Linked DNA regions of Homo sapiens. The protein of the gene in region 6 purifies or fractionates together with the protein of the main gene of each other region. This does not show direct contact. Each region holds a gene or a part of one and is shown on either strand. Other genes may lie near its edges.

Evidence for each region.
Region 1: the proteins of APLNR (region 6) and HIP1R purify together in Homo sapiens (affinity purification with mass spectrometry; 2 studies listed by BioGRID and IntAct, with this or other methods). This does not show direct contact.
Region 2: the proteins of APLNR (region 6) and EXOC6 purify together in Homo sapiens (affinity purification with mass spectrometry; 2 studies listed by BioGRID and IntAct, with this or other methods). This does not show direct contact.
Region 3: the proteins of APLNR (region 6) and CUEDC1 purify together in Homo sapiens (co-immunoprecipitation; 2 studies listed by BioGRID and IntAct, with this or other methods). This does not show direct contact.
Region 4: the proteins of APLNR (region 6) and ELOVL5 purify together in Homo sapiens (affinity purification with mass spectrometry; 2 studies listed by BioGRID and IntAct, with this or other methods). This does not show direct contact.
Region 5: the proteins of APLNR (region 6) and SPG7 purify together in Homo sapiens (affinity purification with mass spectrometry; 2 studies listed by BioGRID and IntAct, with this or other methods). This does not show direct contact.
Region 7: the proteins of APLNR (region 6) and SLC29A1 purify together in Homo sapiens (affinity purification with mass spectrometry; 2 studies listed by BioGRID and IntAct, with this or other methods). This does not show direct contact.

Annotation. Positions count from the first base shown.
Region 1 is NC_000012.12:122,845,278-122,849,209, reverse strand, and holds part of HIP1R (huntingtin-interacting protein 1-related protein), read right to left. Parts: intron 1,180-3,932; coding exon 1,116-1,179; intron 745-1,115; coding exon 602-744; intron 415-601; coding exon 358-414; intron 1-357. UniProt on the Homo sapiens protein: Component of clathrin-coated pits and vesicles, that may link the endocytic machinery to the actin cytoskeleton. Binds 3-phosphoinositides (via ENTH domain).
Region 2 is NC_000010.11:92,854,725-92,858,656, reverse strand, and holds part of EXOC6 (exocyst complex component 6), read right to left. Parts: intron 1-3,932. UniProt on the Homo sapiens protein: Component of the exocyst complex involved in the docking of exocytic vesicles with fusion sites on the plasma membrane.
Region 3 is NC_000017.11:57,881,981-57,885,912, forward strand, and holds part of CUEDC1 (CUE domain-containing protein 1), read right to left. Parts: intron 3,900-3,932; 5' UTR 3,585-3,899; coding exon 3,249-3,584; exon of another isoform or gene 3,192-3,248; intron 1-3,191.
Region 4 is NC_000006.12:53,275,822-53,279,753, forward strand, and holds part of ELOVL5 (very long chain fatty acid elongase 5), read right to left. Parts: intron 1,251-3,932; exon of another isoform or gene 1,172-1,250; intron 436-1,171; coding exon 358-435; intron 1-357. UniProt on the Homo sapiens protein: Catalyzes the first and rate-limiting reaction of the four reactions that constitute the long-chain fatty acids elongation cycle.
Region 5 is NC_000016.10:89,528,471-89,532,402, reverse strand, and holds part of SPG7 (mitochondrial inner membrane m-AAA protease component paraplegin isoform 1 precursor), read right to left. Parts: intron 2,927-3,932; coding exon 2,824-2,926; intron 1,721-2,823; coding exon 1,595-1,720; intron 500-1,594; coding exon 337-499; intron 1-336. UniProt on the Homo sapiens protein: Catalytic component of the m-AAA protease, a protease that plays a key role in proteostasis of inner mitochondrial membrane proteins, and which is essential for axonal and neuron development.
Region 6 is NC_000011.10:57,234,451-57,238,453, forward strand, and holds the start of APLNR (apelin receptor), read right to left. Parts: upstream 2,801-4,003; 5' UTR 2,555-2,800; coding exon 1,412-2,554; 3' UTR 1-1,411. UniProt on the Homo sapiens protein: G protein-coupled receptor for peptide hormones apelin (APLN) and apelin receptor early endogenous ligand (APELA/ELA), that plays a role in the regulation of normal cardiovascular function and fluid homeostasis.
Region 7 is NC_000006.12:44,229,938-44,233,869, forward strand, and holds part of SLC29A1 (equilibrative nucleoside transporter 1), read left to right. Parts: coding exon 1-109; intron 110-409; coding exon 410-544; intron 545-630; coding exon 631-728; intron 729-873; coding exon 874-952; intron 953-1,426; coding exon 1,427-1,524; intron 1,525-2,060; coding exon 2,061-2,169; intron 2,170-2,405; coding exon 2,406-2,491; intron 2,492-2,869; coding exon 2,870-3,069; intron 3,070-3,479; coding exon 3,480-3,591; 3' UTR 3,592-3,932. UniProt on the Homo sapiens protein: Uniporter involved in the facilitative transport of nucleosides and nucleobases, and contributes to maintaining their cellular homeostasis. Functions as a Na(+)-independent transporter.

The DNA.
Region 1 (3,932 bases), on a different chromosome or scaffold from region 6:
CCTCCAGTCCTGATTCTTCAGCAGCAGGTCTGGGGGAGCCCAGGAACCTGCGCCCTGCCACAGGCTCTCTAACCACCGAGGTGCCCGGGCTGTGGTCTTGCCACATTTCCCAACTCGTGAGGACTAAAGGGCCCGGGTGACTTCGACGCTGGAGGGCCCACTGGTTATGCGTGTGGAGCGCCCTGGGCCAGGCCCTCAAAGGCAGGCAGCATCTCCCCGTGCTGCCCCTCCCACTGTCGCCCCTGGGAAAACCCAGCCACCCGCAGGGAACTGCCCACAGGGAGCCACCCTTCGCTCAGCCCCACACGCTCAGGAAAGCCCCGAATGCCAGGCAGGACCTAGAATGGCTGGACCTACCCACAGGTCTCCAATCTCCCGGATGTTGCTGCGGTACCGCTGGCAGTCATGCAGCACCTGCAGCGCAGGGAATACGGGAGTGGGGGAGTGTCCAGGACCGTGTGGCAGGGCCCTGAGACACGCACTCCCCACCCGAGGCGGGAGGAACAGCCCGGAGCTACGGGGACAGGAACAGGGCCAGAGCCCGCATGTCCGCGGGACAGTGCCCCAGCTCCGGGGAGCAGAGGCAGCAGCTGCTACTCACATTGGGGTGCCCGTCTCGAAGGACCTTGTGGAGGACGTGGCAGAACTTCCAGCTGAGAATGGAGCTGCTGGGCAGCGGCAGCCCAATGGCGTAGGACCAGAAGGTGAAAGCCCCCTTCTCGTGGTGTGTGCCCAGAATGATGCCTGCAATGTCAAGGCCAAGTGTGGAAGCAGAGACTGGAGCACGGGGGCTCAGCAAACCCGGCTGAGAGAGGCCAGGGCCGCCGGAAGAGGGCCGGCCCCCAATCACGTGCCCATCAACCCCGGGTCACCAGAGCTCCAGTGTCCAGCCAAGGGGACAGGAGTTAGGGCAAGACAAGGAAATCATTGGGCCCAATGGGGGCGTTTTTGTGATGAGACTGAGATGGGAAGGAGCCAAGCTGCACAGGACCCTCCTCCCCGGGCTCAGTGAGGGAACTTGTGACCCCGGCACAGCTGACCGCAGGCCACCTGCAGCACTACGCTGCTCCCACATCCACACCCAACTCCTGGGTCCAAGAGCCGGCCAAGGATACGCCGGGCGTGCTTCTCCTTCACGGGGGCCTCCTGGGTGTTGATGGCTTTGCTGATGCTGATGGCCTGTGAGGGACAAAGGAGCAGTGTTTAGAGCCCCAGGCAGCCACCCCAGGAGACACCACCCCAAGGGGGAGAAGCACAATACTGAACAGGATTCTGCCTGGGTTCAAGGCCAGTGGAGCGATGGGGGAGACAGGAATCCCCTCAACCTAAGCTTCTGAAGGACTTCCCTGTGCCTGATCGGTGCAGCTGGAACTACAGTGAACACCAAGAGCTCCAGGAGTCAGGGGACAAGGACCAAAGCTGGGCTATGGCTCCGGGAGGCCATCCTGCCCAAAACCTGCACGACTTGACTCTCCTGGCAGATGTGGTGCCCTGAGCCCCAGGTCATGGCCCAGTGTGGTGTCCTCCGGCCCCATCTCCCCTTGGGGAAAAGCAGCTGAGACTGGAGCCCCCGGCTGGGGCCCACCTGGCCTTTGCGGCACCCCATGAAGGGTGCACATCACATTGTCCCCACTCTCCTGGGAGGCATTCCCAGGAAACTTAGGCAAAGCCCAGGGCCTGTGGCCCACTGCCCCATAGGCTGCCCCTCTCCTGGGTGGGGCCTCACCCTGTCAAACTGTGTCAAGCTCCTGCTGCCACCTGCAGCCCAGCCAGGGGCGGAGGAAGGCAGGAGTGGGGTCTGCAGCTGTCACCCGGAGCTGCGCAAGTGGCACCTTCACACTTGACCAAGGCCAGAATCTCAGCATCCCTCCCGCTCCACCTATGGCAGTCTCACCCCTCCCCCCCCGCCCCGGCTACTGCCTCCTTTTCCGAGTAGGCTTCCTGGACGTGACTGTGCTCTCGAGGAGGGCTCACGGCGGTACCATCACTACAACCCGGCCCTGGCTCCGTGGGGCATGGGGTATTTCTCATGCAGGGAACAGGTCTGCTAAACCTCTGTCCCCCACCACCAATGTTTGTGACCTGAGAAGAGCTGTCCAGGCCATGGGCGGGAGGGACAGGGCCTCGACAGATGCAGACACTGAGATGGGACACGCAGCCCCCAGCCTCAGCCAGGGCAGCTGGGCTCCTGAGCCACAGGCTGGCCTAAGCCAGGCAGGCCTTGAAGGGCAGGGAGCCGGCTTGCAGGACAGTGCAGCGCTCCTGCGCCTTCTCCCCAGACACCACTGCACTCTCCCACCCAACACCGGAGCAGAGGACATCCAATTAGGGTCTACTGTGGAATTTCCTCTGTGAGAAAAGCCAGCCCGGGAAGCTGGGGGGCCCTACCTGGTGGGACCTCAGATGGGAGCTAGGGGACTGCGGGGCTGGGCCAGGCAGCCTCTGGGCCGCCCCCGGCCCCTAGCACGATGCTGACCCCCTTTCACACACAGGGCCCATTGTACTGGACCCTCCCAGGCAGGTGTCCTGGGGCTGCCCTGAGCCCTGCTCCCTGTAGTCGGGGAGGAGCTGCGGTCCCATCTCAAGGAACCACGACCTGAGGAAATGCACAGAGGCTCTGGTGGGCCTGATCCTGAGGGCTGCCCAGCCAGTGGCCCCCAGGCCTCAGCTCCTTCCTTGAACAAACTCGTATCCACCAACTGTGAGAAGCCATGGCTGAGAGTGTCATGCCCCCAGAGGCAGAATATTGCTCACGACAGCAGCTATGATGATAAGGATCCTGAGTGCCCAGCCCCAGCCAGGCATGGGCAACTCGCCTCCCAGCAACAGCCCAGGGAAGTGGTGACTAACCCATTTTCCTGGTGAGGAAACTGAGGCACAGAAGGCTTATATACTTGTCTGTACAGCTAATAAGGATAAAGGCAGTGTTCAAAGCCAGGTCTGTCTGATTCCACAACCTGTGTCCTTAGTGACTCTGAACAGCCCCCAGGCAGTTCCTCCCGTGGGGAGGGGCTCCCAGGGCAGGAGGCAGGGGCTGTGACTTTCCCCAGCTCACTGGCAAGCAGCTGTCCTGTCACAAGCCAGGCGTGTCCGTCTCCGGGGTGTGTAACCCCATCCCCAGCTGCCGACACCTGAGCTGCCACCTGGTTCGGAAGATTCCTGGCAAGAAGGGTGGAGGCGAAGTGACTGGTGCAGACCTGGCACCAGAGAGGCTGTAGACACAGAGATGCGGGGGTTTCTCCTGACACTGAGGAAACCCCGGGATGGGGCTGAGATAGGGACCCTAGAAGCAGAGAACACATTCTGGGGGAATGGGCTGCCCTCTCCTCTTTGCGAGGAAAGACACAGTGAGGCCAAGGTGCAGCCACCCGTGTCCCCAGGCCCTAGGCTCCAGATGCCCACTCAGCAGAGCTCCAGCTCCCCGCACCCGGCACCCTCACACCCTCCTGCAGCCGCCCTGTTGAAATCTGCACCTTCTGGATGGATGGTCTCTGAGGGCCGGGCACCCTCAGACAGTGGAGTGTTTCCTTATTTATCACCCTCTCCCCTCACCCAGCAGTCAGCAACACGAGGGGAAGCAGATCGGCCTATAGGTGCTGCTGAACCCCCAGCTCCTCAACAGTGCCTGGCATGCAAATGACTTTCATGGCAGGAGGGAGGCCCCAGGAATGCAGTGTGACGGGGCATGCCTTGGGCACATGGCATGGTCTCCTGTGCGCCTGGGCCTCAGTGCTGCCTGCTCCCCGCGCTGGCGGCAGGGGACAGGATCCGTGGCAGCAGGGCCCTCCCGGGCAGGGTGCCGGCTGGCTCTGGGAACACAGCCCCGTTGTGTCTAGGATGGGCAGATGTGTGCACCAGGCTCAGAGCGCCACACAAGGAGGCACAGTGCTCGCACAGTGGGAGTCTGTGGCTGCTCCGTGGGCCTCGCCTCT
Region 2 (3,932 bases), on a different chromosome or scaffold from region 6:
AGTATGATGACAATGTCTTACCAAATAGAGATGGATAAAGAAGTAGAAATTATTTTTTTTAATAATTGGAAATTCCAGAGTTGAAAAGTCAGTAACATAAATGAAAAATTCATTGGAGGGTCCCAACAGTGGATGTGAATTGGCAGAAGGAAGAATCAGTGAATATACAAGACAGTCTGATTATGCAATCAGAGAACAAGAGAGAAAAAACAGTAAGAGAGAAAAAAGAACAGGAGAGAAAAAAGAATAAGGAAAATGAACAGAGTCTCAAATAAATGTGGACATCATTAAGCACACCAGCATACATGAGATGGGAGCACCAAAGTAGAGAAGAGAAAGGAACAGAATGACTATTTAAAGAAATAATTTAAAATTTCCAAAATTTGATGAAAAACATTAACCTACATATCTAAGAAGATCAACAAACTCCAAGTAAGATAAACATAAAGAGATCCATATCCAGGTACATCATAGTAAAATAATGAGAGACAAACGGAAAATCCTGAAAACAACAAGAAACTGCTGATTACATAAGGGAATTCCAATAAGATTAACAGCTGACTTCTCATCAGAAATAATGAAGCCCAGAGGCAGTGGAAAGACATATTCAAACTGCTGGCCGGCGGAGGGGGGGAACCCGTCAACTAAAAATCTTACATATGGTAAAACTATCTTTCAAAAATGAAGATGACATAAAGACATGCCCAGATTTTAAAAAAACAGACAAACAACAACAACAAAAAAAACAGGAAATAGTTTCAAGCAGACCAGCCTTACAAGAAATACAAAAGGAATTTCCTCACGATTAAGAGTGAACTCAGATGACCATTTGATCACACACAGACACACAGACCAGACACACACAGACACACACAAAGAACACCAGTAAAGGTAACTATGTAATTATAAAATACAGTATAAATGCATACTTCTCATTTCTTATCTGATTTGTGGAAGCAGTTGCATAAAACTACATGTACATAATTGTATTGGTGGCATGCAACATATAAAATATATATAGAATATATGTAATACAATGGACAATCACAACACAAAGGATGTATGTGGGAGCAAAGCCATTCTGGAGTAAGAAAATGACACAAGATGACAACTAAAAACCCAGCAACAAATGAAAAGAATCAGAAACAGTAAATAAGAAACTTAATATAACAAACTTTAAAAATACATATTGGTCTCTGTTCTTCTTTCTGCTTCTTTAAAAGACAAAAAATTATAAAAAGTAACAATTATAGTAATGTATTATTGTAATAACACAAAAAAAGGGAAAGAAGGAATATAGCTATATAAGAGTAACATTTCTATACCTTACTGGAAATTAGACTAATTCTGAAGTAGATTCTGAGAGCAACCACTAAGAACTAACTTTTTTCTAAATTCCCAAAAAATCACTAATTAAAATATTACACCAGAAAATATTTGCTTAATGCAAAAGCAGCAGTAAAAAAGGAATAGAGGAGCAAAAAAAAAAAGGAAGAAAGAAATGAGACATAGAACACAAGAAAAACAGCAGATGTGAATCCAACTATGTAAATAATAACATTAAATATGAATAAACAATCAAAAGGCATAGGTTCTCAAATTGGATAAAAATAAGATCCAATGATGTGCTATCTACAAGAGATACACTTTAGATTTAATGACATATTTAAAAGTAAACAGAAAAACATATATCATGAAAAGAGCAACTATAAGAAAGCTGCAGCAGCTATACTAATATCTGACATAACAGACTTTAAAACAAGTCTAGAAATAAAGGATATTTTATGACGGCAAATGGTCAATCAATAAGGAATATATAAAGTATAAACATATATGCATCTAACAACAGAGCCTGAAAAGACATAAAAACTACTCATCATTCAATAATGGATAGAACAACTAAGCAGAAGACCAAAAGGGAATAGGAGACGTGAACAATACTCTAAGCTAATTAGACCTAACAGACCTCTATAGAATACTCCCTCCAACAACAGTAGGATACACAGTCTTCTCAAGGGAACATGGAACATTCTCCAGTACAGACTATGTTAGGCAATAAAATAAGCCTCAATAAACTTAAAATAAACTGAAGTCATACAAATTATTATCTCTGACTGCAATGGGATTAAATTAGAAATTAATAACAGAAGGACATTTTAGAAATTCACAAATATGTTGAAATTAAGCACACTTCTAAATAACCAGTGAAAGAGGAAATAATAAGGAAAACTAAAGATATTTTGAAGAAAGGTAAATGAAAACACACATGCCAAAAAGTTTTAGATGAAGCTAATGCTGTTCTTAGAGAAAAATTTATAGCTGTAAAAACCAATATTAAAAAATAAGAAAGATCTCAAATTAATAACCCAAACTTCCATCGTAAGGTTGGGTTCCATCATAATAAAAAAGAGAGCAACCCAACCCAAAACAAGCAGAAGAAAGAAAGTAATAAAGATTAGATCAGATGTAAATGTAACAGAAAAACAATAGAGAGGCCAGGTGCAGTGGCTCATGCCTGTAATCCCAGAAATTTTGGAGGCAAAGGCAGGCAGATCACCTGAGGTCAGGAGTTCAAGACCAGCCTGGCCAACGTGGCAAACCCTATCTCTACTAAAAATATAAAAATTAGCCAGGCATGGTGGCATGTGCCTGTAATCCCAGCTAGTCGAGAGGCTGAAACAGGAGAATCGCTTGAACCCAGGAGGCGGAGGTTGCAGTGAGCCAAGATCGCGCTACTGCACTCCAGCCTGGGCAACAGAGCAAGACTTCATCTCAAAAAAAAGAAAAAACAAAAACAATAGAGAAAAAAATCAATAAAACAGAGAGTTGGTTCTTTGAAAAGATCAACAAAATTGACAAACCTTTATCTAGAATGACCAAGCAAAAACAAAGACTCAAATTACTAAATTCAAGAACAAAAGAGAGAATGTTACAGAAATAAAAATAAGAAAAAGTTATGAGCAATTATATGTCAACAACTAAAATAATCTAAATGAAACACAACAAATTCCTAGAAAGACACAAACTATCAAAACTAACTCAAGAAAACTAGAAAATCTGAGTATACCTTTAACAAGTAATGAAATGGAATCAGTAATCGAAAACTTCCCAACAAAGAAAATACACATGGCTTAACTGGAAAATTTTACCATATATTTAAAGAATTAACATTAATCATTCACAAGCTCTTCCAAATGTGGAAGAGAAGCGAACACTTCCTAACTCATTCTATAAGGCCAGCATTACCCTGATACCAAAGCCAGATAAAGACATCACCAAAAAAAGAAAATTACAGAGCTGGGCATGGTGGAACATGCCTGTAGTTTCAGATACTCAGGAGGCTGAGGTGGGAGAACTGCATGAGCTCCAGAGTTCAAGACCAGCCTGGGCAATGTAGCAAGATCCTGTCTCAAACATAAATTAAAAAAAAAAATTTTCATGCCAGGCACAGTGGCTCATGCCTATAATTCCAGCTACTCGGGAGGCTAAGGTAGGAGGACTGCTTGAGGCCAGAAGTACAAGATCAGTCTGGGCAACACAGTGAGATTTTGTCTCTAAAAAAATTACAGAAATCCCTCATGAATATAGATGTAGAAATTCTCAATAAAATACTAGCAAACCAAATCCAACAGTATATTAAAGAGGATTATACACTATGGCCAAATGAGATTTATCCTAGGAATGCAAGGGTAATTAAACATGAGGAAATCAATCAATGTAATGTACCACATGAATAGAATAAAGGGGGGAAAAAACCCAAATACTCATCTCAATTGAGAGAGCACCAACTCATTCTATGAGGTATCATTCTCATATCAAAGACATCACACACACACACACAAAAAACAGATCAAAATATCTTATGAATACACATGCAAAAATCCTCAACAAAATACTAGCAAACAGAATCCAACAACATATAAAAAGGATTA
Region 3 (3,932 bases), on a different chromosome or scaffold from region 6:
ACCGCCACAAAGAGGTTGTTCTTCTGGCTCTAAAGGTGCTGAAGTTTTTGGGCTCTGCAGCCTCCTGGCTTAACTCATTGTGGGTGATGGATGCCTGCCAGGTGCTCCAGGGGGCAGGGTCTAGGCCATTTATCTGACAGGAGATACTTCTCCATGGCAAGGATACCCCTCGGGCCAGCCCACCATCCATCAGCCCCCAGAAAGGGTTTTTTTTTCCAGTCAGCAGTTATTGTCATTCCAGCTGTGGCTCATAAATTTTCCGAAGCACTTTCCGCTGGCTCAGGAGCTGCCTGCCTATGGGCCCAGGCAGAGTTCCAAAGGTGGGGGGTTGGGGAGACTGCCAAGGGAGGGGAGGGGTACCGGGAGGGGGCTCAATTTGGAGAGCAAGATTCTTAGAAAAACAGAAGTGCACACACAGCAAGGGCCTACCTAGGGGGTGGTGAAGCCTTGCAGAGGTCTATAGGACTGTGGGGGCCATGGACAAAGGAGAAAATACTACCCTACCTGCCAGACTGTCAGGGCAAATCAGACTGCAGAAAGGGTCAGAGCTTGCAGAGAGCTTTCCTTCCAGTTCACACTTAAAGCATATACAGTTGACTCTCAAATAACAAGAGTTTGAACTGCGTGGGTCCACTTATAGGTAGATTTTCTTCCACCTCCACCACCCCTGAGACAGCAAAACCAACCCCTCCTGTCCCTCCTCCTCAGCCTACTCAATGTGAGAAGATGAGGATGAAGCCCTTTACGATGATCTACTTCCACTTAATGAGTAGAAAATATATTTTGTCTTGCTTATGATTTTCTTAACATTTTCTTGTCTCTAGCTTACTTTATTGTAGGAATACAGTATATGATACATACAACACACAAAATATATGTTAGTCGACTGTTTATGTTAAGGCTTGAGTTAAGGCTTGAGGTCAACGATAGGCTATTAGCAGTCAATTTCTGGGAAAATCAAAAGTTATATTAAAAAGTGGATTTTTGACTGCAAGGGGAGGATTCACTGCCCCTAACCCCTGCATTGTTCAATGGTCAACTGTATCTGCAGACACACACATACATACGCATACTCTCACTCTCTCTCTCTCCTTCTTTCTACAAAGAGGATCCATATTTTCCAATATTCCTTCCACCACCTACTCCAAGCAGATCAAAGGAGTGGTCTCCCAAGGAGAGAGACAATAGAAAACTGTACAAAGACAGCAGCAACACGTACTCATTCAACAAACACTCCCTGAGTGCTTGCTATGTGCGTGGATTGTCCTGGGTGCTGCAGATGACACAGGGATGAGCCAGATGTCTTGGCCAACAGAGCTTTTCCACCTCTAGGGGAAGTCTCAGCAGCACCCACTAAGGAGGAAAAGCAAGGAGACTTTGCCCTGCAGGATGGCTGATGAACAAGGGTAATAATAATGCCACAGCACAAAGTTTGTGAGGATTAGAAGAGATGACACATCGGGCCAGGTGCAGTGGCTCATGCCTGTAATCCCAATACTTTGGGAGGCCGAGGCGGGCAGATCACCTGAGGTCAGGAGTTCGAGACCAGCCTGGCCAACATGGTGAAACCCCATCTCTACTAAAACTACAAAATTAGCCGGTCATGATGGCACATGCATGTAGTCCCAGCTACTCGAGAGGCTGAGGCAGGAGAATCGCTTGAACCTGGGAGGTGGAGGTTGCAGTGAACCAAGATCGCGCCATTGCACTCCAGCCTGGGCGACAGAGCAAGACTCTGTCTCAAAAAAACAAAAAAACAAACAAAAAAAGAAGATATGATACATCTAAAGCACTTAGGATGATGCCTGGCACGGGTCGGGACTCAATAAAGAGTGGAGTTAAATCCTGCTGGGTCCTGGTCTTGTCCATGGCTGCATGTCCCAGATGGCCCTGTGGACAACACCCCTCTGATTAACAGGCTCTGTGTGCCTCATCCTTCTGCACCAAGCACCTCAGGCTCTGCTGATACTGGGTGGCCAGATGTCCACTGAACTCGGGTGGGACTGGAAAGGACTCACAACCTCCAGCAGGTGGGTACTGATGCAGTACGCAGGTCCCCTCTCTCCAGCCACTTCCCTGGAGAGACTGCTTGGCTATGGCTCACTACTGTTTCCATCAGGCCACAGTCAGAGGGATTTAACTGGCAAGTCTGATTCCTCACTCCCTTTCCGTGGCTATGCTCCCAGGATACAGCCGCACTCTTTTTCTTTTCTTTTTTTTTTTTTTTTTTTTTTTGAGACGGAGCCTTGTTCTGTCACCCAGGCTGGAGTGCAGTGGCATGATCTCGGCTCACTGCAACCTCTGCCTCCCGGGTTCAGGCGATTCTCCTGCCTCAGCCTCCCGAGTAGCTGGGACTACAGGTGCGCACCACCACGCCTGGCTAATTTTTGTATTTTTAGTAGAGATGGGGTTTCACCATATTGGCCAGGCTGGTCTCGAACTCCTGAACTCATGATCCACCTGCCTCGGCCTCCCAAAGTGCTGGGATTACAGGCATGAGCCACCTCGCCCGGCCCCAGCCGCACTCTTTTTCTCAGCGTCAGGGCTTTGTCAACCTCATTGATCTCCTCTCACTCTAGGACCCTGACAGATGGTCCTGCTGCCAGTTCCCTAGCCAGTGAGGCACTATTTCACCTCCCAGACTCTGCACAAGCTGTTCCCTTTGCCTGCACACCCTTCCCCCGGCTTCACTCTTCCTTTGGGTCTCAGCTTAGGGTTTCGGCTTAGCCATCGCTTCCTCTGGGAAGTCACTCCTTTCTGCTGCTTCCACGTCTCCATCGAGCACTTACCACTCTGGCCGTCAGTACCCGACTCGCGCTTCTAGTCCACACTGGACTGTGAGCTCCAGGAGGGCAGAAATTTGGTCTGACTTGGCCACTAGCGGACTCTACGCCTGATGTGGAGTTCAGTATGTTGGGGTGGGGCCCAGGCACCTGCATTTTTAACAAGCACCTTGATTCTGATGCCTCCTGACTCAGGGTCTAGTGCCACGTCTCGCACACCACTGAGTGGGCGCTCAGTGTTTGTTGAATGACTGCATGATTTCTGCCCATAAAATAAGGTGACTGACGGATGGTACTTTTCCCTAGGGGAAGTAAGGCTGCTTGCTAATTAGAACCCAGATAGCGGAGTAACCCAGGTCCTCTTAGAGGTTCCAGTGGTGGTTGGAATTACCCGGGCCGTGCCCCTACCTCCGGGGGGATGCTGTCCTCCAGTGGTGGTTGGAATTACCCGGGCTGCGCCCCTACCTCCGGGGGGATGCTGTCCTCCGAGTCGGAGCTGTCCTCATAGACGCCGCCGCTGCTGCCACCGCCCTCCAGGTTCATCTGCAGCAGCTGGTCGATGGTGGCGTCCACAGCGCCGCTGTTGGCGCGCAGCACGCATTCGATGATGTCGTAATCCATGTTGGGGAACATGGTCTTGAAGTCGTCCATGGCCTGGTTGAACTCCAGGCGGCGCACCTGGCGGGCAGGCCGGCTGTTGTTGAGCTCCTGGGGGGCGGCCGTGCCTCCCCCGCCCCCGCGTGCCCCGGCGGTGCCACCCCCGCCGCTGCCGCTGCTGCTCCGGCGGAACAGGCTGGTCATTTTGCGGAGCCGCTTGGGGAAAATGTTTCTAGCCGGCCGCAAAGCCCCTTCCCCAGGGTCTTTCCGCCGTCAGCCGCTTACTTGCCCTGCGGTCTCGGGCAGCTCACTCCTGCGCCTCCTCCTCCCCGGGTAGCCAGGCAGCAATGGGCTGCCAAGAGCTCCGGGTTAGGAGAGTACGGGCGCGGGGCCCCAGGCAGCCCTTGGAGAGCGGTCCTCGCGGGGCGGTGGCATGCGGGACCGGGCCGTGCTGGGGCTGGGCGGCCGGTCATCCACACCCCCGGTGCATCCTGGCACCGGTTTCACGGATGGTCCCACCTGAAACCGAAAGAGATGGAGTCAGGGCCGAGG
Region 4 (3,932 bases), on a different chromosome or scaffold from region 6:
AGATTTTATTTTTAACACCACTACTCGGAAAAAAGTACTTGGATGAATGATTTTAAAAATTTAAGACATTGCTCTTATGATCCTGATTGTGTAAATATAACATACTGACTGCATGTGATTTTTCCTGCCAATTGTTAACCGGAGTTATTTTTACAGAGGGGGATGCTTTAGGTTTTATTTTATACCTTTCACATTCAAATTTTAATTTGATGTGTATATATTGCCTTTTTTATTCTTTTAAAAATATCAACAGGGATTGCCTGGGCAGTGAGGTTATGGGCCATTTTGTATTTTATACAATTTATTTTTAAAAACTCAACACTTATAATAATAAAGTTTCTGAAAAAGAGACAGTACCTTCATATCTGATTCTCCTGCGGTGCGTGTGCCCTGACAGAAGAAGTTGTATTTGCCTTCCCATACTCCTGTTACTAACTAAAAAAGAAGAAAGAGCCAGTCACCAACAGCATCTGAGCCATGTAAAGTCCTCATTGAACTTTATTAGTTGCAGAATCTGTGATAATTTACCTTGGGCTGTGCTGAGCCAAGTTTGCTCTGAGAAAAAACAATTGTAGGCAAGTGTAAACAAAAGGAAAGCTTTAATGACTTGAGTCTCAATTTCCTAAGGGGTGGGCTTAAAAGTCACTCCCAGGCTGCTGCCCTCAGAGACCTTCCTTTACCACGCTGCTTCTCTGCAGAACCCTCAGCCCGTCACCCCCTTGGTCCTAGCACAAGTGCCCAGACCAAGCCAATCACAGGCTCCCTGCTCTGCCCCACAGAAGCCTCTGGCTGCTTTCCCTAAGCCAGTGCTCCTCAAACTTGAGTGTGCAGCACCAGAATTACCTGAGGGGTGAGTTAGTAAAACATGGGTCCCTGGGGGTGTTTCTGTTCCAGTAGGTCTGGGGGCCTAGAATTTGTATGTCTAACAAGGTCCAGGTGATACTGATGCTGCTGATGTGGAAACCATACTTTGAGAACCACTGCTGTAGGCTCAGGGATAATTTAGTCCAACTTTATCTTCATTATTTCCTGTTGTTGTATGTACAATCCTCCGGATCCATGAATTAGGCTTCACAAACTGAAGGCTTCACAAGTGCCCATGCCTCAGAATCACTTGCAGCACAGTAGGCACTATGCTGTCACAGAGAGGACCCCAGAACTGGGGTACAGGCTCTACATCACAGCCCAGCAGTTATCACGGGCCCCTCCCCTCAATGGGCCCGTGATAACTGCAGGGCTGTGATGTAGAGTCTGCACCCCAATTCTTGTGTTCCCTGTCCTTGAACACAAGAGTTTAGCTTGGCGAGCAACACAGATTCCCCCCCAGGGAACAAGAGGTGATTACAAGGATCTGAAGACACCTTGTGATATTTCCACCTGGTCTGACATCAGAAATAAATGGCAAAAAATGGGTGTAGCCGCTGCACTCACGCTGGGTATCCTGCCTTCTATCTGATTTTTCTTTGGTTATCTTTCTTCTTGCCATTTTCCTTCTGCTTTGTCACCTTCTACACATAAAAAAGCACTGAGAGTTAACAGGCTTTTCATGGCCAAAGAAGAGCACAAGGATTTAGCATGGGAGAAGCATCAGTTCATGATGAAGAGCCATGGAATTAGGAGGAAGGCTTGAGTGCCAGGCCCAGCACCTGGGGCAAGCCAGCTAATTCCTGTGGGCTTTTGTTGTTTTTACTATAAAATGATGAGGTTGGACTAAATTATCTCTAAAGGGTCTGTTCCAAATTTCTGTAGCTTCATGTTAACAGACTTTAAAAACAGACCACACAACAAACTATTCTATACTATCTTTGAAAGATCAGTACCCACATGGTAATTCATTAGAAGGTGTATTAACTTTTCTGTCTTCTACTACTCTCTAAAGTCATGGCCAGTCAAGCAGGATCCATGCAGGCTGATCAGAAGTCCTAAGAAGCAAGACACAAAGTCTGAATCCAAAGTGCGTTGGAGGTCGGGGGAGGAAGCTGGCATGCACTCTTGAGACCTGGGGTGGAGAGGGAAGGGCCAGCTTAGCACAGTGCTCTTTTTGCTGCCCTTCTTTCTACCCCAGGAGGGAACCAAGGAACTACCTCCTGTGGCTTGAGGGTACAGAAAGGAAACTGGTGCTTCTTGATGAAATGTTTGTGGGACAACCGCGAATAAGAAAAATAAGGACAACGCAGTAAGGTTTTCATGAAGATAAATTCGTGCAATGTAAAAGATCCTCTTTTTTAAAACAGCAGCCTCTCTTGGCAAAATTAAAAACGTACTAACATATGACTGTCTTCATCAGAGATATTTTTGGAAATGTTACCATTTTATGAATCTTAAATCTGGAACCTACCATCACTGTTTTTTCCAGCGACTATTTTGGTTTATGGTGTCCAGAGACATCCTGGGTTGGTTTTGCTTTTGTCTGTTTTAAAATAGGATGGCTGGTGTGTGTGCACTTGTGGAGGTGTGGATGACTGCATTCATGAATGTCTATCTTGGCAGGGGTGGGGAAAATCAAGGTAGCTCTCTGGAGAAGAGGAGGACAAATCCTCTCTTGTAATTCTGCAGGCGCCTCAATCCCAAAGATGAGAACGGGTTGAAGGGGTCTTGTTAACTCAGCAGAAGGGACTCTTGGACACAGGCTTCCTTTTTAAGAAGGGATCCAGGTGGGATTGCCTTGACTCTTTAAACTAGTTAACCTAACGTTCCATTTGCCCTCTCCCCACCCATAAATGGGGCAGGGGAATCCATGTATAAAACACCTGTTGTCTTTGGAGTTTAGTTAAAGAACTCAAACCTCAGTATTGGGTGGTGAACTTTTTTCACTCCTGAAGCATAAACCAGGTATACACACAAGAAGCTGCTCACTCGGTGCCACTCCACTTGACCTAGGCCCACCATTCCTCTTCCACCTGTTGAGGTTCCCTGTAGGAGCTCTGTCATGCTTCAATGCAACACTCCCTCCACTGCTACTCACACCTACCACACTTCCACTGGGGCCGCTGTGCCCCTCAAACCACTGAATTCCATATTTCCATATTTAAAACCCTCCAGTGAGTCATCATTGCCTTCAGAATGAAACCCTGAATCCTAGGTGCAGTGTCCAGGTATTTAGTCTTCCACAACGTGGTCCCAAGCTTATCTTTCACTTCTCCCCTACGTGCACACAAATTGGACCTCTTCCCATTCTCCAAACATGCCCTTCCTTAACCGCTACACAGTAGCCAAGGGGAAAGAGCATGGGTTTGGGCATTAGCCCATTAAACCCTAGCTTTTTCACGTTTTGCTAGGTGACCTTAGCTAAGGTATTCCAACATTTTAAACTTCAGTTTTCTCAGTCCTCAAATGGGATAAACATAAGGCTCCCACCATGAAGTACATAATGCCTGTCTCACCCAATGTGGTTCATAGGATTAAACATAAGTGTTGGCAGTGACCACTGTTTTATTCTTTTCAACTAGAATGCCCTCTGCACCTATGTACCCCCATCTCCAGCTCTCAAAATCCTATCTATCCTTCAAAGTTCAGTTAAAATTCTATTTTCTTCATGATTACTCCCTTGAGCACTAGAGCCTGAGGTCTATTCTCCTTCCTCTACCCTCACCTTGCAGTGACCTGTAGCTGTTTGCTCACATGCTCCCTTTGTTAATGGGCCTGTTGTGTGCTCTTCTGTAAGATTTCGAAGGGTGGTGACTGTGGCTCCTGCATCTGCATCAACATATTCCAGCACAGGGATTAGCGTACCAGAGATGTCAAACAAATATTTGCTAAACAAATGACAAAGAGTTCAAGACTGCCAATTCTTTCCCCTAAATCTAGGCCTAATGTTTCATGTGCAGCAATAAAGAGAGCTTCATAGTATTTTAAACGAGGCTTGACTTTGTGATCATATTCATCTGAACTCTGTTCACAAGATGAAAACTCTTCATCATCAATTTCATAAT
Region 5 (3,932 bases), on a different chromosome or scaffold from region 6:
GTACCCGGGCCAGACAAAGTTCTACACCAAGGACAACTAAAGCTACCAGCTCCATTCCCTACAAACAGACACACGGCAGCTGCTCGCGGGGGCCCCTGGCCACCCCTCAGGGTTCACACGCACCGTGCTGGCCCCCCAGGCCACAAGTGACGGTGGCTTTGAAGCAAACATCATGTGCTTCGCAGACAAAACCCCTCCGCCAACCCAGACCTCGCTTTCCTTCTCTACTCCCCCACCCACCCGTGTCCCTTTCAGTCCAGACACCAGAGGAAGGATGTGTGAAAGGAGCCAGGTAGTCAGCCAAGCCCACCCACAGCCCCCAACCACAGCACCTACCTCCAATGACCTCCACGAACTCTGGGCCGGCCATCGCCAGGAAGGGCACCTGAGCCTCCGTGGCCACCGCCTTGGCCAGCAGCGTCTTCCCACAGCCGGGGGGGCCGAGCAGCAGTGCGCCCTTTGGGACCTTGGCGCCAAGCTGGAGGAAGCGTTCTGGGCTCTGGACGGCAGCAGACAATGCAACACTAACTACTTGGGGATTCCGTTTTTTTGTTTTTTAGAGGTAAGGTCTCTCTGGGTCACGCAGGCTGGAGTGCAGTGGGTGCCATGATAGCTCACTGCAGCCTCAAACTCCTGGGTTCAAGCCACCCTCTCACCTCAGCCTCTCGAGTAGCTGGGAATATACAGGCATGTGGCACCACGCCCAGCTACTTTTAAAAACTTCTTGCAGGCCAGGTGCGGTGGCTCACACCTGGAATTCCAACATTTTGGGAGGCTGAGGCAGGCGCGTAGCTTGAGATCAGGAGTTTGAGACCAGCCTGGCCAACATGGAAAAACCCCGTCTCTACTAAAAATACAAAAATTAGCCGTGCATGGTGGTGGGCGCCTGTGATCCCTGCTACTCGGGAGGCTGAGGCAGGAGAATCACTTGAACTGGGGAGGTGGAGGTTGTAGTGAGCCGAGATTGTGCCACTGCACTCCAGCCTGAGTGACAAAGTGAGACTCTGTCTCGAAAAAAAAAATTAATTAAATAAAAAAATGTTTTGCAGAGACAGGGTCTCACTGTTGCCCAGGCTGATCTCCTACTCCTGGGCTCAGTCACTCCCCTGCCTCAGCGCCCCGAGGTGCCAGGACTACAGGCGTGACCCACTGTACCAGGCCTGCAGAGGGAACACATGTCAGCCCCTCGAGGTGCCAGGACTACAGGTGCGACCCACCGTACCAGGCCCGCGGAGGAAACGTGTAAGTGACGCACGTGATAGGCAGCTCATGCACTGCCACCAACTGGCTAAGGTGTTTATGTGGTTCTGGAAAAAGCACAGAGCTTTGCAAGGGATGAAGGGCCCAGGACGGCTAACGGCACAGTAGGCATGGGTCTTGGCAGCCTCTGCTTGGCTGAACCATGTGCACGAGGCTTGTGCTGCTGGTTGAACAGGCACCAGCACCTGCTTGGTGTCCCCATGGGACATGGTAGAGGTCACCGCCAACCCACGACACGTCATCGATGGAATTCCAGGTCCCGCAGGAGCCCTTCTGGGAGAGGAGGACGGCCGGCCTCTGCTCACACCTCCCTCCCGGCCCACGCTGCTTTCACCTTCAGATAATCCACAAACTCGCGGACTTCCAGTTTGGCTTCGTGCATTCCTGCCACGTCTTTGAAGCTGACTCCTTTCCCCATCTTCCCATCCACAATGGTGAAACGAGCCATTTTAAGCTGATTCTGTGCAGAAAGAACAAAGTGCAAGGAGCTGGGCGAAGTCAGGAAATCAGCAGCACGATGCCAGCGCTCAGCCCACGCACCTGAGCCGCCCCAACCCCACGTCTCCATCCTAGGATCCCAAGGCTTCACTCATGTCAGGCTGACGAGGCTCACAGTCAGTCTTCAAGCACAGAAGGGAAATGTTTCGTCATTAATTAGTAAGAAACTTATCTAGCAATTTGCTTTAAAAAAAATTACTCAGCCAGGCATGGTGGCTCACGCCTGTAATCCTAGCACTTTGGGAGGCCGAGATGGGCGGATCACGAGGTCAAGAGATCGAGACCACCCTGGCTAACACGGTGAAACCTGTCTCTACCAAAAATACAAAAAAATTAGCTGGGTGTGGTGGCAGGCACCTGTAGTCACAGCTACTTGGAAGGCTGAAGCAGGAGAATCGCTTGAACCCAGGAGGCAGAGGTTGCAGTGAGCTGAGATCGCACCACTGCACTCCAGCCTGGGCAACAGAGCCAGACTCTGTCACACACACACACACACAAAAAAGAAAGGCCAGGTGCAGTGGCTCATGCCTATAATCCCAGCACTTTGGGAGGCTGAGGCGGGAGGATCACCTGAGGTCGGGAGTTCGAGACCAGCCTGAACAACATGGAGAAACCCCGTCTCTACCAAAAATACAAAATTAGCTGGACGTGGTGGCGCGTGCCTGTAATCCCAGCTACTCGGGAAGCTGAGGCAGGAGAATTGCTTGAATGCGGGAGGTGCAAGTTGCGGTGAGCTGAGATCGCACGGCTGCACTCCAGCCTGGGCAAGAAGGGCGAAACTCCGTCTCAAAAAAAAAGAAAAGAAAAACGCAGATTCAACTGCCCTGTAATCTCACAAGGCTCAGGCACCCCAGAGTTAGGGGTGAGAGGCCCTCAGGCAACATTGGTTACTACACGCCTTACAGCCGGACCATGGGAAAGGAAGGTGAGCTGCTGTCTAATTGTGGCTTCAGGCTACTCTCTGCAACAGGTTTTCCCTGTGTATTCATCGTATAGCTTATGGGAAAAGTATTCAGCAAACACAAACCAGAAAGAGTTCAGAGAGCTCTGATTTACAGAACTTACAAAAGCACTGAATCCACCTTCCCTTCCAGTCATCCCGGCCAGACGGAAAACATACCACAGGATGGCCAGGCCCACTGCCGTCATCCCCACAGAGTACAGGGCACTGCCGGAAGAAAGAGAGGCAGGCACAGGCTCAGACGGTGTCACGTGACAGACGCAGGCTTCCAAATCAGAACCACTGCTGGCAATGTTTCCAAGATGAGACGAGGAATCCCTACGTCTGGGACCGATGCGCAGATTAAAATGGTTGTGGAAATGGGTTCTCTCGTCTCATTCTCGCTGACTGTGCTTTTTCATGAAAGCTTCCCAAATGGTCAGACTGAGTGTGCAGATGCCGGAGATCTAGCCAGCCTTGTGACAATAACAACGTTCAGGTTTTTCTATTTTCAGTATATTTTGTTTTCAAATGTAAGCGATCAGCTTCAATCAGGCAGGCAAGATCAGCCTAAGAGTAAAAAGCAAATCTCAGGCCGGGCGCGGTGGCTCACGCCTGTAATCCTAGCACTTTGGGAGGCCGTGGCGGGTGAATCACAAGGTCAGGAGTTTGAGACCAGCCTGGCCAACATGGTAAAACCCCATATCTACTAAAAAAATACAAAAATTAGCTGGACATGGTGGCATGCGTCTGCAATCCCAGCTACTTGGGAGGCTGAGGCAGGAGAAATGCTTGAACCTAGGAGGTGAAGGCTGCAGTGAGTCAAGATCGTGCCACTGAACTCCAGCCTGAGCTACAGAGCAAGACTCCATCTCAAAAAGAAAAGAAAAATGTAAGAATAAACCCTGTGTCTACTAAAAATACAAAAAAACTTAGCTGGATGTGGTGGTGTGCATCTGTAGTCCCAGCTACTCAGGAGGCTGAGGTGGGAGAATCACTGATCCTGGGAGGTCGAGGCTGCAGTAAGCTGAGATTGCACCACTGCACTCCAGCCTGGGCGACAGAGTGAGACCCTGACTCCAAAAAAAAAAAAAAAAAAAAGCAAATCCCAGGACTTTTGCCCTCATCCTGAGGAGGGGCTGCCCTGGGCCTGCCCCAACCCTCCATCTTCTGTACATCATCAGCCTACAAAGACACGAGAATGGGCCTGCCCCAACCCTCCATCTTCTGTTCT
Region 6 (4,003 bases):
GGCGCCAGCTGCTTTGGGGAGGGATCTCCCTACAGGAAGCCTGGTGCAAACATTAACTTCGCTCCTAAAGCACGGACCAGCCGTTGGAGCCCCCAAATCCAGTAGGGGGTGGACTCATTTTTATTCTACATTTTTCATTGCCTCAGTGTGTCCCTGCCCCCCACCACCCCCTGCCAAGGGTAATGTGTGAACAGCAGAGTTGCAGTGGATTGGGGGGTGGGAGGAGGTTTGTCCAAATGACCCAGGCACACTGCTGTTCATGCCAGGCTCATCCATATAGACATATAAGTACAACACACACAGACAAGAGGCAGGCATCTCCATCCCAAACAACATGATTCTTGGCACCAAGTAGCACCAGTGCCCAAGAAAGAAATCAGTATGATGGGGTAAGATGGGGAGATGAGGAAACCCTTCAGCTCACAGTTATGCAGGAAGTCAGAAACAGGAGGACTCGGGGAGCGAGCCAAGCAGTGTCTGGACTAAATGCAGACACCCCTCCATCCTCTCTCTCTAGTTGCCCTTCCCAACTCCCCACTCACATAATGAAACCAAGGAGTACATCCATTCATCAGCCCTGCTGCCTTCCAATTCTCATAGAAAATAGAGGAAGGATGAAAGGGTCTGCGGACAATTTGGAGAAAGCATATCTAGTCAGTGTCATGGTGCCATGGGGGAACTGCAGGAATCACACTAGCCCCAATGCCCAAAATGACAGGGAAGTGATCCAATTTTAGGGCAAGCTCTGGAGCTCCCAGATCTAAGGGCTGGAGCACTAATTATCTGCTGACACACAGCCCACCCCCGGCCCCAGCCCATTCCCTGCCTCACACTCAGAAAACAGGATAGAAAGCTTAAACAGGGTCAGTCTCTGCAAGCTTTGGGATCCTTAACCCTTAGTAGCCCTTCAGAACAAGAAAGTAGACAGGGGAGAAGGATGGATGGAGGGAGGGGGACGAGCTGTAGGAGGGGATTGGTGCCAGAAGGCAGGGATAAGGAGCGGCAGCTGCAGAGAGTGGTGGGGGAAAAACTACAAGGAAAGAAGGGAGGAAAGACGATTGCAGATCTAAGAAAGCAGCAGAGGGAAACAAGCTTTTACTGCGTCCAGACTCAGGCTTCAACATTTTAGGATCAATATGACTTTCCCCCATTTCATACCAATGGAGAAACTGAGGCTGAGTGAGATTAAATGGCTTGTGCAGGGTCAGGTCTGTAGAGCCCAGTCTCTTTCCCCTAAACCACAAACCTCTGAGAAAGAATAAAGCAGTAGAGGAGGACAGGGCGGGGCAGAATCAGGGGACAGTTAAAGGATGTGCATAGGACAAGGAGTAGCCACACTACCTGATTTTCAGAAAGCAAGGGCAAAGGCCGGGGAGGGCCGAGGGCGCCAGGCTTCTCTCTGCTCCCAGCCCTAGTCAACCACAAGGGTCTCCTGGCTGTAGGGGATGGATTTCTCGTGCATCTGTTCTCCACCCTTGCCCATGTTGGGGCCGGGCCCCTGGCTGTGCCCCGAAGAGTAGCTGGCTGACTTCTCCCCACTGCTGCTGTGGGAGGTGCCTGCGCACCTGCTCTGGCCACAGCAGAGCATGGAGGTGCAGGCCTGGCGGAAGCGGGGGTCGAAAAAGGCATAGAGGAAGGGGTTGAGGCAGCTGTTGACGTAGCTGATGCAGGTGCAGTAGGGGAAGATGTTCATGAGGAAGAGGTCAAAGTCACAGGGCCAGTGCAGCAGGCTGCCCAGCATGTACAGCGTCTTCACCAGGTGGTAGGGCATCCAGCACAGGGCAAAGGTCACCACCAGCACCACGATGATGCTGAGCAGCCGGCGCCGCTTCCGCAGGCCCTCGATGCGTTCCTTGCGGAAGTGGCCAGCGATGGTTTGGGCGATGAAGAAGTAACAGGTCAGCATGATGGTGAAGGGCACCACAAAGCCCACGGTGGTGGACGAGACCCCAAGGCCCACCTCCCAGGCCCACTCTGAGCTCACAGTGGCCACCATGGAGTAGTCCATGTAGCACTGCACCTTAGTGGTGTTCTCCAAGTCCCCGGTGGTGCGTAACACCATGACAGGCATGGCCAGGAGGGCGGCCAGCACCCAAAGAACTGCCGTGGCCACGGCCCCGCTGACCCGCAGCCTCAGCCGAGCATTGGCCACTGGCCTCACGATGGCCAGGTAGCGGTCGAAGCTGAGGCCGGTGAGGCAGAAGACGCTGGCGTACATGTTGACGAAGATGAGGTAGCTGCTGAGCTTGCAGAAGAAGGTCCCAAAGGGCCAGTCATAGTCCCGGTACGTGTAGGTAGCCCACAGGGGCAGCGTCACCACGAAGGTCAGGTCAGCCACCGCCAGGCTAGCAATGAAGATATCAGCTGAGCGCCTCTTCTCCCGGCTGCTCCGAAACACGGTCCAGAGCACCAGACCGTTGCCCGTGGTGCCCAGGAGGAAGACCAACATGTAGATGGCAGGGATGAGGGCCCCCGAGGATTTCCAGTCTGTGTACTCACACTCAGACTGGTTGTCTGCCCCATAGTAGTTGTCAAAATCACCACCTTCCTCCATGCTGGGGAGTGGAGAGAAGACGGGCAGAGGGTCCCAGGGACACCAGCTCCGTGGCTCTGTCACCCACTCTGCAAGCAGCCTGAATTTCTGGCTTGAGCCTCAGAGAGTAAGAAGGGCTGAAGATGCCCAGAGTCCTTCCCAGCACTCAGGAGGAGCTGCCTCTGGGTTCTCCAGACCCTGGAGGAAGCCTGTCTCCTGCAGAATTTCCTCCACCCTCTCTTGCCTTACCCCCGTCTCAGTTAAGACACTTCCTTGCACCCTCCTGCGTCCCTGTCTCCTCCTTGACTCGTCACTCCCTCCTCCCACCTCCAGACCAGCCCCTCTCTTGTGAGTCAAAATCTTTAGTGACAGCCCACTTTTTTTTTCTTTTTGTCACTGAGCAAGTGGACCAAATTGACCCCTACTGTGCTGGGCTGAACATTATCTGTGGTTTTGCAAGTCGGCTTTCCTGGCCCCGCCTCTCCTTTCTGGCTGCCACCCACCTTCACCCCAGCCCCTATCCCTCCACTTTCCTCTGGCCACCACTTCCTGCCTGCCCTTTAGGGCACTCCCTCCTCAGTGCTCTCCGCCCTCCTGTTCTCACCCCCTTCCATCCAATCTAAATGGGACACATTATGCAGATTGCAATCCAGCTTGAGCTGGAGCCAGGGCTGGTAGGGAGCAAGGAGGGTGTAAGATTTCGCAGGATGGGCAGGGCATCTGGCAGGTCCTCCTGGCAGGCAGGTCTGGCCCCCTCGGCTCCCTTCCTGCACCCCCAGCCCCCACCCAGACCAGGTGTCACAGGAGGGTCTTCTCCCACTTTGCCTCTCGCTTCATCTTTCTCTACCCCTTGGCTTTGACCCTCCCTCTGAGAACTTTTGTGGTTTCTAGAGAAATACCCCTACACTAGTGTAGACTGCAGTTTGCAGTTTGCGGAAGGCACAGGATGCTTTAGAAGGTTGAGGGCAGTCACAGGATGGAAGAAACCCAGGACAAAATTATCTCTAAACAAGTCATTAAATCTGTAGGAAACAAAGGCCCAACAAGGTCAATGTTTTGCCCAAGGTAATAAAGTGAATTATGCTACAGTTGATTGTTTGCTTTTCTTCTTCTCCAAACACGAACATAATACAGTACCTGGCATGTCGTAGGTGAATGGCTGTTTTGTTTGTTTGTTTGTTTGTTGAGACAGAGTTTCACTCTTGTTGCCCAGGCTGGTCTAGGCTCACTGCAACTTCTGCCTCCTGGGTTCAAGCGATTCTCCCGCCTCAGCCTCCCTAGTAGCTGGGATTGCAGGCTAATTTTTTTGTATTTTTAGTAGAGATGGGGATTGACCAGGCTAGTCTCAAACTCCTGACCTCAGATGATCCACCCACCTCGGCCTCCCAAAGTGCTGAAATTACAGGCATGAGCCACCACGCCCAGCCAGGTGAATGGCTGTTGAGTGAGTAAGTGGATGGATGATGTAGG
Region 7 (3,932 bases), on a different chromosome or scaffold from region 6:
CTGGTGGCCATCCTGCTGGTGTTTCTGATCACTGCCATCCTGGTGAAGGTGCAGCTGGATGCTCTGCCCTTCTTTGTCATCACCATGATCAAGATCGTGCTCATTAATTGTAAGCTGGGCCAGGAGGGGGCCTATGGGAGGAGGCATGCCCAACTACCCCCACTCTTTTTTCAGACCCAGCGTTAGCCAGAGAGAAGCCCAGCCTCCGCCTGGAGGGAGTGGATGCTGTGAGCAGCTGGGATTCAGAGGCCTGAGTGGGCCTGGACCAGGGCTGGGAGGGGGCAGAGAGAAGGGCAGCTCAGCCTCAAGGCTCACCAAGAGTAAAGTAGGAATGACAGGGATCTGTCTTCTTGGGCACCCCCAACCACCAGCCCTAGCTCCCCTGCTCATGCCCGCCCTGTTTCCCCAGCATTTGGTGCCATCCTGCAGGGCAGCCTGTTTGGTCTGGCTGGCCTTCTGCCTGCCAGCTACACGGCCCCCATCATGAGTGGCCAGGGCCTAGCAGGCTTCTTTGCCTCCGTGGCCATGATCTGCGCTATTGCCAGTAAGTCCGGCTATCTACCTGCCCAGTGCCCTGGTGTGGTGGGGAGAGGGGATGGGGCCTGTCTCTGATCACTGACACCACCCCAGGTGGCTCGGAGCTATCAGAAAGTGCCTTCGGCTACTTTATCACAGCCTGTGCTGTTATCATTTTGACCATCATCTGTTACCTGGGCCTGCCCCGCCTGGTGAGTAAATGGAGGGAGCTGGGGTTTGGGGTATAGGGGTCTGGGGTTCCAGACCACGGGTGTTCTGAGGACAAAACCTGAAGGAGGCCGGGATTCTGGAGATTCTGCCTCTAAATCCACCTCCCCCGTCTCCCTTACTTGATAGGAATTCTACCGCTACTACCAGCAGCTCAAGCTTGAAGGACCCGGGGAGCAGGAGACCAAGTTGGACCTCATTAGCAAAGGTCCGAAGAGCCTGAGGAAGCTGGGGTGGAGGATGGTATACCAGGCGGGGGATAGCATGAGCAAAGAGAACAAAGATGAGTGCCCTGTGTTAGCTAGCAGCCCTGAGCCAGAGGAGGACTGAAGGACTACAGCAGGGAGAGGGGGACAATAGGAAATAAGGGCCGGCAATGATAAAATGGGGGCAGATCCTGGATGACCTTGAATGCCTGAGGTGTTTGGACTAAAGGCAGTGGGAAGCAATTTCAGATTCTTGAGTGAGGAGTAACATGACCTGAGGCTCCTGGGAGAGGCCAGGCCCCCGGGTCTTGAGTTGTAGGGATTTGGAGGCGAGGTCTGGGTTAGGGTTAGAGTACGGCTGGGACTGGTTAAGGAGGCGTCTACTTTCAAGTAATCCCAGCCGTTTTGGGGAATGTTTATGTTGTCTTCTGTTGCTCTGTCTTCCCCACAACTTGGAGATTTCTTCCATCCCGCAGGAGAGGAGCCAAGAGCAGGCAAAGAGGAATCTGGAGTTTCAGTCTCCAACTCTCAGCCCACCAATGAAAGCCACTCTATCAAAGCCATCCTGAAAAATGTACGTAGGGGAGGTTATCCTATCTTCTACCCCTTGTCCTCTTTCTCTCCTCCTTTTGCTCCCTCCCCCTGCCACCCATCTCCTCCCTTTCTGACCTGAGAGTGGTCACTCCTGGATTCTTTTGTGTGTGCGTGCGTGCCCATGCGTGCGTGCCGGGGGTGGGGATTCGTGGTTCCTTTTTTTTGAGACAGAGTTTCACACTTGTTGCCCAGGCTGGAGTGCAATGGTGCAATCTCCACTCGCTGCAACCTCCATCTCCTGGGTTCAAGTGATTCTCCTGCCTCAGCCTCCCAAGTAGCTGAGATTACAGGCATATGCCACCATGCCCGGCTAATTTTTTGTATTTAGTAGAGATGGGGTTTCACCAGGTCAAGCTGGTCTCAAACTCCTGACCTCAGGTGATCCACCCACCTCGGCCTCCCAAAGTGCTGAGATTACAGGCGTGAGCCACCACGCCTGGCCTGGATTCGTGGTTCTTTAATGCACAGCCACCATGAAGACACAGGCATTTGGGTGACTCTACCCCTTCTATCTAGATCTCAGTCCTGGCTTTCTCTGTCTGCTTCATCTTCACTATCACCATTGGGATGTTTCCAGCCGTGACTGTTGAGGTCAAGTCCAGCATCGCAGGCAGCAGCACCTGGGGTGAGGATGCCACAGGTTTCCAGGATGGGAACAGACAGGATCTTGAGTTGGGCTGGAAGTGGGGAAGGGAGGGAGCCTGGGTCACCTTCTCCCCGTTTCCTGGGTCCATTTGCCCTTCCCTGGGCTGGAAGCATCTTCTCCATTTTACTGTTGGGGAAGCTGAGGCCCAGTGAAGGTTAGGCTTGCTATACCTGCCTCTGTGAGCCTGATAACCACCCGTTCATCTCCTCTTCCAGAACGTTACTTCATTCCTGTGTCCTGTTTCTTGACTTTCAATATCTTTGACTGGTTGGGCCGGAGCCTCACAGCTGTATTCATGTGGGTAAGTGGAGGAAGAGGGCCCCAGGCCCCTGTGGGAAGTAAGAGTCCAGCCTGGACCCAGAGAGGGAACCCAAGAAAGTATGGTAGTAAGGGGACCATTTGTTTTAAAGTCGAGGCATAATTTATGTATAGTTAAGTACAAGTCTTAAGTGTACAACTTAATGAATATATGTATATACACATACCTGCCCAGATCGAGATGTAGAATATTTCCAGCACTCCAGAAGGCTCCACCATGCCCCTTTCAAGAGTAACCCCCTAAGGAGAACCAGGCTTTGAGGTTTCAGTTCAGATCCTGAGGGGCCCCAGATGGATCCTTGGGGGCCTGGCTGTGCCCTGGGGTGGCGGCCTGGGCTGAGGCCCTGCCTGGTGCCCACAGCCTGGGAAGGACAGCCGCTGGCTGCCAAGCCTGGTGCTGGCCCGGCTGGTGTTTGTGCCACTGCTGCTGCTGTGCAACATTAAGCCCCGCCGCTACCTGACTGTGGTCTTCGAGCACGATGCCTGGTTCATCTTCTTCATGGCTGCCTTTGCCTTCTCCAACGGCTACCTCGCCAGCCTCTGCATGTGCTTCGGGCCCAAGTGAGTAGGGCTGGCAGGGAACTTGGTGGCATCAGACAGGATCTAGAGTTCCAGTGGGGGACACTCAGTAGAGGGAGGGCAAAAGGAGAGTCCCTGCTCCCAGAGCTGAGAGGAGAGATGGCTCAGGAGGGGCTCCCAGGCTGAGGGGATAGTGACTGTAGTGGAGGGGGGCGCCAAGCTTACTTGGGTGGAGGTGGAGACAGGTTTGCAGGAAGGAGTGAAAGACAACCCCACCATACACGTTCCCTCAAGGAGGAGAAGCCAGGTTGGGGTTAGGCAGCCAGGATGGGTTGATCAACAGAATGAGGTTCGACAGTCAAGTTGCTCCACCCCACCCCTCCTTCCACCCAGAGGCTCTGGGCTGGGGTACAGCCATTCTGAGGTAGCCTTGCCCTTCCTTCCCCGCTTAGGAAAGTGAAGCCAGCTGAGGCAGAGACCGCAGGAGCCATCATGGCCTTCTTCCTGTGTCTGGGTCTGGCACTGGGGGCTGTTTTCTCCTTCCTGTTCCGGGCAATTGTGTGACAAAGGATGGACAGAAGGACTGCCTGCCTCCCTCCCTGTCTGCCTCCTGCCCCTTCCTTCTGCCAGGGGTGATCCTGAGTGGTCTGGCGGTTTTTTCTTCTAACTGACTTCTGCTTTCCACGGCGTGTGCTGGGCCCGGATCTCCAGGCCCTGGGGAGGGAGCCTCTGGACGGACAGTGGGGACATTGTGGGTTTGGGGCTCAGAGTCGAGGGACGGGGTGTAGCCTCGGCATTTGCTTGAGTTTCTCCACTCTTGGCTCTGACTGATCCCTGCTTGTGCAGGCCAGTGGAGGCTCTTGGGCTTGGAGAACACGTGTGTCTCTGTGTATGTGTCTGTGTGT